Linked DNA regions of Homo sapiens: region 2 is linked to region 1. The links come from fine-mapping of genetic effects on gene expression. Tissue or cell type: lung. Region 1 holds a variant in brackets; the other region holds the start of a gene. All regions are shown on one strand. Distances are from middle to middle.

Region 1 (6,420 bases):
ATTTCAGCTCCTGTTATTGGTCTATTCAGAGATTCAACTTCTTCCTGGTTTAGTCTTGGGAGAGTGTATGTGTCGAGGAATTTATCCATTTCTTCTAGATTTTCTAGTTTCTTTGCATAGAGGTGTTTGTAGTATTCTCTGATGGTAGTTTGTATTTCTGTGGGATTGGTGGTGATATCCCCTTTATCATTTTTTATTGTGTCTATTTGATTCTTCTCTTTTTCTTTATTAGTCTTGCTAGCGGTCTATCAATTTTGTTGATCCTTTCAAAAAACCAGCTCCTGGATTCATTAATTTTTTAAGGGTTTTTTGTGTCTCTATTTCCTTCAGTTGTGCTCTGATTTTAGTTATTTCTTTCTTTCTGCCAGCTTTTGAATGTGTTTGCTCTTGCTTTTCTAGTTCTTTTAATTGTGATGTTAGGGTGTCAATTTTGGATCTTTCCTGCTTTCTCTTGTGGGCATTTAGTGCTATAAATTTCCCTCTACACACTGCTTTGAATGCATCCCAGAGATTCTGGTATGTTGTGTCTTTGTTCTCATTGGTTTCAAAGAACATCTTTATTTCTGCCTTCATTTCGTTATGTATCCAGTAGTCATTCAGGAGCAGGTTGTTCAGTTTCCATGTAGTTGAGCGGTTTTGAGTGAGATTCTTAATCTTGAGTTCTAGTTTGATTGCACTGTGGCCTGAGAGATAGTTTGTTATAATCTCTGTCCTTTTACATTTGCTGAGGAGAGCTTTACTTCCAAGTATGTGGTCAATTTTGGAATAGGTGTGGTGTGGTGCTGAAAAAAATCTATATTCTGTTGATTTGTGGTGGAGAGTTCTGTAGATGTCTATTAGGTCCACTTGGTGCAGAGCTGAGTTCAATTCCTGGGTATCCTTGTTGACTTTCTGTCTCATTGATCTGTCTAATGTTGACAGTGGGTTGTTAAAGTCTCCCATTATTAATGTGTGGGAGTCTAAGTCTCTTTGTAGGTCACTCAGGACTTGCTTTATGAATCTGGGTGCTCCTGTATTGGGTGCATAGATATTTAGGATAGTTAGCTCTTCTTGTTGAATTGATCCCTTTACCATTATGTAATGGCCTTCTTTGTCTCTTTTGATCTTTGTTGGTTTAAAGTCTGTTTTATCAGAGACTAGGATTGCAACCCCTGCCTTTTTTTGTTTTCCATTGGCTCAGTAGATCTTCCTCCATCCTTTTGAGCCTATGTGTGTCTCTGCACGTGAGATGGGTTTCCTGAATACAGCACACTGATGGGTCTTGACTGTTTATCCAATTTGCCAGTCTGTGTCTTTTAATTAGAGCATTTAGTCCATTTACATTTAAAGTTAATATTGTTATGTGTGAATTTGATCCTGTCATATTATGATGTTAGCTGGTGATTTTGCTCGTTAGTTGATGCAGTTTCTTCCTAGTCTTGATGGTCTTTACATTTTGGCATGATTTTGCAGCGGCTGGTACCGGTTGTTCCTTTCCATGTTTAGTGCTTCCTTCAGGAGCACTTTTAGGGCAGGCCTGGTGGTGACAAAATCTCTCAGCATTTGCTTGTCTGTAAAGTATTTTATTTCTCCTTCACTTATGAAGCTTAGTTTGGCTGGATATGAAATTCTGGGTTGAAATTGTTTTCTTTAAGAATGTTGAATATTGGCCCCCACTCTCTTCTGGCTTGTAGAGATTCTGCCGAGAGATCTGCTGTTAGTCTGATGGGCTTCCCTTTGAGGGTAACCCGACCTTTCTCTCTGGCTGCCGTTAACATTTTTTCCTTCATTTCAACTTTGGTGAATCTGACAATTATGTGTCTTGGAGTTGCTCTTCTCGAGGAGTATCTTTGTGGCGTTCTCTGTATTTCCTGAATCTGAATGTTGGCCTGCCTTGCTAGATTGGGGAAGTTCTCCTGGATAATATCCTGCAGAGTGTTTTCCAACTTGGTTCCATTCTCCCCATCACTTTCAGGTACACCAATCAGACGTAGATTTGGTCTTTTCACATAGTCCCATATTTCTTGGAGGCTTTGCTCGTTTCTTTTTATTCTTTTTTCTCTAAACTTCCCTTCTTGCTTCATTTCATTCATTTCATCTTCCATTGCTGATACCCTTTCTTCCAGTTGATCACATCGGCTCCTGAGGCTTCTGCATTCTTCACGTAGTTCTCGAGCCTTGGTTTTCAGCTCCATCAGCTCCTTTAAGCACTTCTCTATATTGGTTATTCTAGTTATACATTCTTCTAAATTTTTTTCAAAGTTTTCAACTTCTTTGCCTTTGGTTTGAATGTCCTCCCGTAGCTCAGAGTAATTTGATCGTCTGAAGCCTTCTTCTCTCAGCTCGTCAAAGTCATTCTCCGTCCAGCTTTGTTCCGTTGCTGGTGAGGAACTGCGTTCCCTTGGAGGAGGAGAGGCGCTCTGCGTTTTAGAGTTTCCAGTTTTTCTGTTCTGTTTTTTCCCCATCTTTGTGGTTTTTATCTACTTTTGGTCTTTGATGATGGTGATGTACAGATGGGTTTTTGGTGTGGATGTCCTTTCTGTTTGTTAGTTTTCCTTCTAACAGACAGGACCCTCAGCTTCAGGTCTGTTGGCATACCCTGCCGTGTGAGGTGTCAGTGTGCCCCTGCTGGGGGGTGCCTCCCAGTTAGGCTGCTCGGGGGTCAGGGGTCAGGGACCCACTTGAGGAGGCAGTGTGCCAGTTCTCAGATCTCCAGCTGCATGCTGGGAGAACCAGTGCTCTCTTCAAAGCTGTCAGACAGGGACATTTAACTCTGCAGACGTTACTGCTGTCTTTTTGTTTGTCTGTGCCCTGCCCCGAGAGGTGGAGCCTACAGTTGCAGGCAGGCCTCCTTGAGCTGTGGTGGGCTCCACCCAGTTGGAGCTTCCTGGCTGCTTTGTTTACCTAATCAAGCCTGGCCAATGGCGGGCGCCCCTCCCCCAGCCTCGCTGCCGCCTTGCAGTTTGATCTCAGACTGCTGTGCTAGCAATCAGCGAGATTCCGTGGGCGTAGGACCCTCCGAGCCGGGTGCAGGATATAATCTCGTGGTGCGCCGTTTTTTAAGCTGGTCCGAAAAGCGCAATATTCGGGTGGGAGTGACCCAATTTTCCAGGTGCGTCCGTCACCCCTTTCTTTGACTTGGAAAGGGAACTCCCTGACCCCTTGCGCTTCCCAAGTGAGGCAATGCCTCGCCCTGCTTCGGCTTGCGCACGGTGCGCTCACCCACTGACCTGCGCCCACTGTCTGGCACCCCCTAGTGAGATGAACC[G/C]GGTACCTCAGATGGAAATGCAGAAATCACGCGTCTTCACTGGGAGCTGTAGACCGGAGCTGTTCCTATTCGGCCATCTTGGCTCCTCCCCCTACACACAAGAGTTTCTGTGAGTTTGGCATCTCTCAGTCAACTAGAACTAAATGTCTAGGTAATCTGAAAACTGCTGATTGATTGGAGATTTTCATTCGGATTTGCAGATTAGCTGAAAGAAGCTAAACCACTCCAGGAAGACCAAAGAAGCAAATCATACATCCAAGTTATCTGGCAACAACTTCATTGATTTAGTCAACATTGAGTAAAACAGGAAAAGGAATAGAACTTCATTGTTAACTAATCCATTCTTGAAAATAACTCACAGCCCAGCCTGTCTAAAACTGGGTGGACTGGAGGAAATTTGGTTCAAAAATTTTTGCTCCACAGGCTTTTGCAGTTCCACAGCACTTTGTATTTTCTAAGATGCTTCCAGAATCAGTACCTTGTTTGTGCTTCATGGGTAATTTGGGAAGGAGTGAGGACAGAGATAATTTCTATTTAATAAATAGATAAGAACATGAAAGCAAAAAAATGGAATGCCTTGTCCTATTTCAAGTTGTGAGTCAATGATGTACCCAGAATTGGAACATGAATATCTGACAGTTGATCTGGTTGTGTGGAAATAACTGGATAATCTATTTAATCAAGGGCCTATTCTCTGAGATGGTTCCTAACTAACTTCTTTTGGACATGACAAATATACGCATATATACGCATAAGGGGAATAACTTTAATATAACTTTATTTTCAAACTCTTCTTAACCATCTCTTCTTTCCAAATATGGTGGTGTAATTAGACTACGGCATGTATAGGTAAACTAGATTTTTGTAAGTGGCACTGAATTTGTCTTAGTCTTTCTCAAAATTCAGCAACTATATTTGTTATCTTTCATTCATCAGGATTCAGAGAGCAAAAAAATGTGTTTTAAAAAGTCTGATTTTATGAATAATTTGTGTTCATTAATAATATATAAGGAATATGTAAATATTATTCAACCACAAAAAAATCATCTTACAGGAACAACTAAGTCGGATGATCAGACCTTTCCCAATTTATTGCTGTGCCTCGTATTATGGAATATTTGTGCATTACCAGACTCAGTCAGAAAATAAAGGCAGCAACAATCACCAAAAGATGAAAAACATTCATCTTTTATGTAGCAGATTCTGATTCTGTGAAATCACCTGGCTGATTATCAGGGGATATAAGACAAAACAGAAGAGTTCATTCTTAGATTTCAGGGACTTCCAAGTAAGCTGTAGTAATAAGGTATCCTAAAAGGAAAGATCTAGGTGTCTGACAGTTGTAGGATCACATGTGAATATACTCGGACTCAAATGACAAAACAAAAAAACCATTTACTGAGCATATATTAAGGTGTGTACTGGACACTTATTATTAATAATCTCTTTCAATCTTGAACAAAACCTATGAAAACATAAATATGACTTTTTCCTCATTTTATAGGTAGGCAACTGAGACTCAAAGATAAATACCACCTAACGTTCCAAGGATAGGAGGTCAGTTTTTGAATGCATTTAGAAGGAGGGCGTCAGGGCCAGTCTTAAACATTATGCTCTTCTGTCTTTCATCGATATACTTGGAATATTCCTCTTTTGGAATTCCAGAAATATGAAAACAATTACCTTGATTGTTACCAAAAGGTTTCAACAAGTATCCATATTTAAGGGACAAACCAACTAACCAAAGTAACCAATTAGTAAAGAAATGAGGTGTGGGAATGAAATGAACATCAAGCAAAGGAATAGGTTGCTCTTCACAGATGAATCTTGTTTCCTGGAGTGTATGCATACTTACGAGACTTTTTGGTGGTAACATTGACTGGGGGGCTTGAGGGCCCTGTCCCAGCAGTGTTGTAAGCTCTTACGGAAGCAAAGTAGATGGTATTAGCTTTCAGCCCCGTGATGTTTTTGGTTGTGACATTTCCACTGACTCTAATTTTACCTATCATGGATTCTTTGGAGTCATCTGTCCAGTATAAGACCTGATAATTAAAAACCAAAACAAGCAATTTATTGTTCCCCAATAACTATCAATCATTTTTTACCAACAACTATCAACCACAACCACAAGGAATATGGGAAGAAGACAGAAGTATAGATGACAAAAACGTTTTCTAATTAAAATGGTTATACAACAACAAAATTGTTATTCTCTAATATTTATGAGGAAAAAAGTCATGAATGCAAATTCACAATGGAAATTAGAGAACGTGATTTTTTAGATTACCAAAATAAAGTATTTTATGAGCTATCTAAAGGTTACCAGCTTTAGCAAATGATGTATAACAAGTCAGACAAAAACACATTTGTATATAATCAGTCAAAGACTTTCATTATAATGTCTTGCTATTGGCATTTCTTTTCAGAGTTATTTGAATCACAGGTTAATTAATAATTCAATTTATACTGAACCCTACCTTTGCATTAGCATTGTTTTAGGTACATTGAAAAAAAAAGAGAATAAATTAAGTACCTATTTTCAAGCCCCTTATCATCTAGCTAAGAGGTTAGAATCCACAGTGTATGTGAAAATAAGTCACAGAATGCATTGCAAAGAAGTGGTATAGAAAAAATATGCTACAAGAATTTGACAAAATACATCAGGAATTGATGGGAGTAGAGCTCAGAGAGAAGAGGCGACTAGGGATGAAATTTGAGAAGTAACTAGGGTTCAGATAAGAGGTAAGGCATTCTTGGCATGGAGTGGAAAAGACACCTGTCCTGAGAGTAGAACTTTCTGTTGGAATCAGAGGATTATGGTTATATATATATATATATATGTGTGTGTGTGTGTGTATATATATATATATATATATATATGTGTATATATATGTATATATATGTGTATATATGTATATATATGTGTGTATATATAGTATGTATATGTATACGTGTGTGTGTGTGTATATATATATATATATATATAGGCAAAATTAAGAATGTTTAGGATTATACATTTATTCTAAATCCAAAGTTAAATAAATTATGTTACCCATTTTGTGAATCACTGAATTTGCAAGTTGAAAAAGATTGAGTGATGAACAACTTTCCCTTAAAATGTTCTTGTCTCTTTACTTTGTGAGATGAAGGCCTACAAATGTAATTTGCCTTAT
Region 2 (6,420 bases), 290 kb after region 1:
TAAAAAACGAAGCAAAAACCCTCCGTCTTCAGTGAAAATGTTAGTGGACAAAACCCCAAAACACGACTTGAAGCCCATTTCCACTGTAGCCAAATACTAAAAATCATGGACCTTTGGGGGACATCAGAGAAAACCGATCAGTACTTTCTTTTTCTCTTACTTTCAGGAGGATACAGATTGCCCAAAAACCTGCCAGCTGAGGAAATTGCTAGAGTGTTAAGAGAAGGAAACATGTATTTACAAGATCACAATACAGAAGGTTGTGCCTTAATAGGTTTATTGCAAGCTATACTATTCATTCAAGTGGCAAACAAGAGAACAAGTGGTTCTCAAATAAAGAAGATAACCAATTTGTCAATTAAAATTGAAAAGAAATTTGGATATGAAAGATGTGGAAAGTAGACAAATGAGATACAACATGTACAAAATTGGTGATCCTGAAGAAAAGAAAGAAGCAAGATAACCACAATTTGGCCACGCCCAGTTAAGGGACAAAAAAGAAATAGTACAACAAATCCTAAAATAAAAGAATCTTAAATTAATGGGGCAAACCTCAAAAAAAGTTAATGAAAATGGAACAAATCCAGGAATATTCTGTAAAAGCAAACACCCATACACACACTCACACACACACACACAACAAAAGAATCATGTAGGCATTTATCAGAAAAAAAGCAAGTCACATTCAATGACGGAAATTGCAGACAGACCTAAAAATGTTGCAAAACAACTTTCAGTACAGGAAGGGTCTCCAAAAATGTTTAAACATTTACACATTTCCAAAAGAAAAAATTAAGCTTGATCCAAGAAAGATAACGTATCTTGCATGTCTAAGGCAAAAGAAATACATGTTCAAGATGCAAACTCATAGAAAATATAGCACCTATGACTATTTCTTTGGTGGAGAGGTACTACTTACTGAAATCTAACAACCCAAAAAATAATTGAAAATAAAGAACACAGAAATGGTGAATTGGGTAGTAAAAGCCTGTTGATAAAGGATAATTCCTTACAAATTTGAAATAAGTTTAAACTGAGACCATGGGAATTCAGCCAGAATGTATGTACTCAGTAATGTAAAACTGATGTAGTTTAAATTGAGGTGGTATGGGTGGAGTTGATGACAAGTCACATTGCAAATGCATTTAACTATCATAACAAGGGTTATAAAAGTTTGTTTACTATTTAAACGTGCATCCAAAAAAATCTTCAAACTATTTCTATTTTCAAAATTTTTGGTCTTAACTGTAAGGGTATTATTCTGGACATAATATCTCCATTGGAGAGAAATCTATACATGAAATTTAACAATTTCTTCAATGTTGTTTCAACTTCTCTTTTTTCAGTTTAATTAAAATCTAAAATCAAAAATTAAACTCAATGTTTCTGTTTTCTGTTTTCTGTTTGTTTGTTTGTTTGTTTGAGATGGAGTTTCACTCTGTCACCCAGGCTGGAGGGCAATGGCGCGATCTCTGCTCACTGCAAGCTCCGCCTCCCGGGGTCAAGTGATTCTCCTGCCTCAGCTTCCTGAGTAGCTGTGACTACAGGCACACGCCAAAACGCCCAGCTAATTTTTGTATTTTTAGTAGAAATGGGGTTTCACCATGTTGGCCAGGATGGTCTCAATCTCTTGACCTCGTGATCCGCCCGCCTCGGCCTCCCAAAGTGCTGGGATTATAGGTGTGAACCACCGCGCGCGGCCAATATTTCTGTTTTTTTTTAAGTGTAGGATAAGATCTCATTCTTACAGAAGAGTATCTATTATTGACTATATTATCTAAATATTTATTATTTATTTTTTAAAAGGTGTATAGTAAGAAACCATTCTTACAAAAGTATTTATCTCTCATCTTATCTGAATTTAGGCACCAGTATGTCTCCAATGATAGTCGCCAAATTTCATGATTGTTATTTACAGGTGATGGGTTTTCCCTTTTGAACTTTTATGTATAGTTTGAGTCATTTTTAATAGGTAGAACTTATACTTCTGCATTCCAATTAATATGTTATTAAAATAAACAGTGAATAAATAAGCAAATATTTTGTATTCCTTCTCCTCACATAAAAGAATTTAAAAGGTACAAATTTACTATTATACTACTGAGCATTTTTACTTACTAAAAAAAAAACCCAGAAGTATGCAATCAATTTAATATACCACACATCCTTTTCACAACATAATTGATTTTTTTTAGAGGGGGTTCTAAACTCAGAGAAAATATGTGATCCTTTTCTAAGTAAACAAGTGAATTTGTTTTCATTAAGGAAAGCTACATAAAAATTCTAAAAAAAAATTCTGGTCCTTCACTACAAATATTCAAAGGAAGTAATGCAATGAAGTCATTTATAAATGATTGACTTTTTTGCTAAGATGTGATAAGTTATGCATTTATATAACCTCACATAAAGCTTTATATAAAAGTTTCCACATTTATATATTTGAAATCTTTGGACTGCACAGCCATGATTATTGCTTAAAAAAAGAAAAAGAAACCCCACTGAAACATCAAAGATGAAATGCTTCTGTATTTCTTTTTTTTTACACAAATTGTGTAAGTATTTTTGTATGTTTATGTTTGTTTTGTGAACATGCGTATGTTTACACATGTGTGTGAAGGAGGAGGGAAAAAGAGTCTGCTTAAACATTTCTTTCCTTATAAAATACAATGCACATAAATTGGTGAAACCTTCAACAACAAAAATAAAAAGATGATAAACCCATCAGATAAATGAAAATTGCTCAAAACAAGCAATTCAATATTCAGCATATGCTTCTTCTTTTACAGACATCTTCAGAAAACATTGCCACTGTAGATAAAATTATGAATACCTCATTTTCCAAATTGATTCTGTGTGATTCTACTGTTCACTCTATTTTTTCTCAGTATAACTTCTATTTAGTCATTCTGTGAATGTTTCTCAGAGGACATAGTCAGGATGCTGATTATTTAAACATAAGTAGTTTTCATTTGGAGAAGCAAAAACTATGAATTCCAATTTTCCCCCCAAACCCCAATGTTACAGTATCCCATTAACATAATGGGTTATACGTGGCTAATCTCAGAGCTCTTAAAAGTTTTGTTCCCAAGTCATCAACTTCTGAAAGTTTTCATAAAGTATTATAAGAACCTTAATACTGACAACTTAACTGGTGTAAATGGTAAAGGAAACTCCAGAGGCTGTTATCTAGAAGCTGGGTATAAAGCAAAATGCCAGACAAAATTTGGTGAGCCCATATGACCTCCAGTCTTGCTTTGCTCCCCTTACCAAATTCTCCCCTAGGAAACTTTATAACCATTCTTTTAAATCATCCGGTGAGAACTGCAAACCCCACCCCTCATCCCTTTGATTAAAAAAAAAAAAAAGACAAAAAACATTTAGCGATCACATTTTCCCATCTGCCGTTACAGAAAGGGCGTGTAGCCATCTGAAAGTCCCAGAATTAGCACTGTCATCCCGTCTTGCCCATTAGTTTTACTGCAGCAAAGACTAGTGAAACACTGAGAAATATACCTGTAGTCTTTCTTTCCCTGGTTTGATCCTAACCTCCCGGAATACAGATTCAATACATTTCTCCCACACAAGGAATAAATGCATTTTAAACATCAGCATCATAGAAACACAGCATCAATAAAGCAGTGACTTCTCCCCCAACCCCAGCTTTTACCTGTTATGCTAATACAAAGACATTGAAAGGAAGAAAAGCTGCAGCTTGCCCAGCAATATTCTCATTGCAGCAGACACAGCACAATTTTGTACTTACAGATCTTACCAGGGAAATGTCTCGGGATCTTTACAGTTTTTCTGCAGAACTCTGTTTCAAGCTCTCAGCCAGGCATGCTGTGCGTCCAGGCAGAACCAAGCCGTATGGAATGTCTATGCAGCTGGGAGATAATGGGACTCTTTTTCCCAGCTGGGACTGCAAGCCTTTTATCCACTGAGTATTGCGTGGCTCTTCTCTGGTCTTAAGCATGAAATACGCTCCTCTCCTGCTGCATTCCTGTCGGAGCCAGACAATCAGTTCTTGAGGCACATGTGCAAAGCTCTCGTTTGGAATATTCAAAAGGAAAATTCTTTCTACATTGAAAGCCAGCTCTATCTTCATCAACCTTCACAGAATCAGAGAGAGCTGAGAGCAGCTGCCATTCCAGGGCCATGAAAGATTAAATTCACCCTCCTCTTTCTTTGACTGGAGATAGTCACTCCTGTCGGGTCATCAGAAAATCTCTCTTATTGAAAACTGGGTCAGACTAACTACTTATTAGGTTTCCAACAGGAAAGGAAGTAATTTTTTTCTTCCTCTGGTTTCACTGCATTGTCATTTGCAAGCAAAGATTAAGCTGGTCAAGGGTCTGCACTGATTTAGACAGTATTCAAATGTAAGCTTTTTGAAGCATGCCAGTAACTCCTATTAGTGAAGGTGAAGAGAAAAGGGAAATAAAATCAAATGATTGTATGCACTATCACTAAAACCTTTATAAGTTGTATTTTTTAAATGTGTGTATGAGGCTTCTTAAAGACAGGTAAAGAAAGTGAAGTCAAACAAGTCCAAAAGAGTATTGCTGCTTTCCGAGTAACATATTTGTAATTCCAGAGGCAGAGAACAAGTGTCTATGTGTTTGCCTAAGAGCTCTGTAAGAAGAAGAATTGTTTTTGTGTTTCACCCTGGGCCCTCCAACTAAACTTTTTAATATGTTTGGGTCTTGTCATCGGGTTTTGAAGGGACTAACTGCTTGAAGGATGAAAACTAAGGAATAGGAATTACACATACATGCACACTGAGACTCTAGTGCATACAAACATAACTATAACATGAGAAAAGAATGATAGTTTGGACTTATTTTCATGTTGGCATACAAAGAAATTATACTCTTAGCATCTTAAAGTAAGTGGATACTGAGAAAATGAAATCCCCAAATCAAATGGAAATAAGTCAAAAGATATTTCTTGGCCTCAGTTTACTTTCATCTGATGAGCAAGAAGGTTTCTATGACTACATTTTATGACTATGTCCTATGGATTTCTTCACAGGGTCTAACCAACATTATAAGAGGCTTTAGAAAGGAGATGATGCTTCCTAACACAAGGTAAACTCAAAATGGGCTACCCTATTGTTTCTCCCAATTCATAAGAAGGCAAACTAGACTAATAATTTTATAGAAAGAATATCTGTTTTTATTGCCTCTTTTTTTTTTTTTTAAAAAAAATAGAAGTATTTCTTGCTCTGTAGGAATAAAAATATATTTTATTTGTAAAAATGCCAAGATGACTTTTTCTGCAGAGTTTTAAGAAAAATAATCATTATGTAGTAGGCTTTATTTTTTTTTTGTGGAAAGAAATTCATTCAAGCTTAAAGAATATCCCTTTACTCAAATCTCCAACAGTCTGACTCATATTCAAGGACAGCTGATTGCTTTGCTTTCTATTTTACCCAAAAAGGAATAAGAACCAGAAGAAAACTTCAATAAGCTCCTGTCACTACATCTAGTCACATACTTGGCCCCTGTGACCACAGACTCTCCCTTCATCTTGTTACTTGAGGTGAACCGTGCTCCCTCCTTAGACCAAGCCATCCACCTGTGCTTTAGATAGTCTTCTACTCAAGGGACCATTCTACCCACTTGTCTCTCTCTGTGGAATCATCAACTCTCCCTACCTTCTGTAGCATCACAACAAAGAGATTTGCTGCTAGTTGGCCCATTTTAAAAATCAGCACCCCTTTAACATACCGTCTTCCTCTGTCTACTACTGCATTTCCTTGCTTCTGTTTATAGTAAAACACCTTGAAGGAATTCTCTGTACTTACTGTCTCCATTCATCTTTTCTCATTTTATCTTGAATCTGCTTTGATTAGTCTTTTGTCCCCACTGTTCCACATAAGTGTTTCTGGTCATAGTCAATATTAAATTACGCATAGAATAATGCAATGGTCAACTTAGTCCTAATTTTACTTGATGTATCACTCACAAGTAATACAGTTTACCAAGTACTCCTCCTTTAAGCATTGCTTTTGCTTAATTTCTTAAATTTTCTTCTCGTTTACTACCTGCTCCTTCTCAGATCCCTTTGCTGATATCTTCTCATTTTATTAATTTTTAAACACTGGGGGAGGAGGTGTGGGTATCAAGGATCTAAAACAAGGTCTGTACACTACAGGCTACACAGAATTACTAAGGAAAATTAATTAAGACCTAAATAAGTAAAGAAATATGCCACATTCATGGGTCAAAAACACTCAATATTTTTAAGAAGTCAATTATCTCCCAATAGGTTTTTAGCTTTAAAATAATCTCAGTGAAAATATCAGGAGATTTTCTTGTAGCAATCATCAAATGAGGCTAAAATTTATGTAGCAATAAAATTAACCAAGAAAGTAAAATCGAATGATAAACAAAGTTGGCAGACATATCCTGTGATTTT

Evidence for each region. PIP is the estimated chance that this variant, and not a neighbour inherited with it, causes the effect. A credible set is the group of variants that fine-mapping cannot tell apart.
Region 2: it holds the start of CNTN6, and the variant in region 1 is the best candidate, but not a certain one, in a credible set for the expression of CNTN6 in lung (TOPMed, PIP 0.77).

What each region holds. Positions count from the first base shown.
Region 1 is chr3:1,384,480-1,390,899 of GRCh38, reverse strand. CNTN6 (contactin 6) reads right to left here. Exons shown (of 23, transcript NM_001289080.2): 20 at 5,103-5,289. Among named protein-coding and RNA genes, the nearest start is that of CNTN6, 290 kb to the right of the region's middle. The variant G/C (reference allele first, on the strand shown) is at 3,248.
Region 2 is chr3:1,090,473-1,096,892 of GRCh38, reverse strand. CNTN6 (contactin 6) reads right to left here and starts at 3,869. Exons shown (of 23, transcript NM_001289080.2): 1 at 3,773-3,869.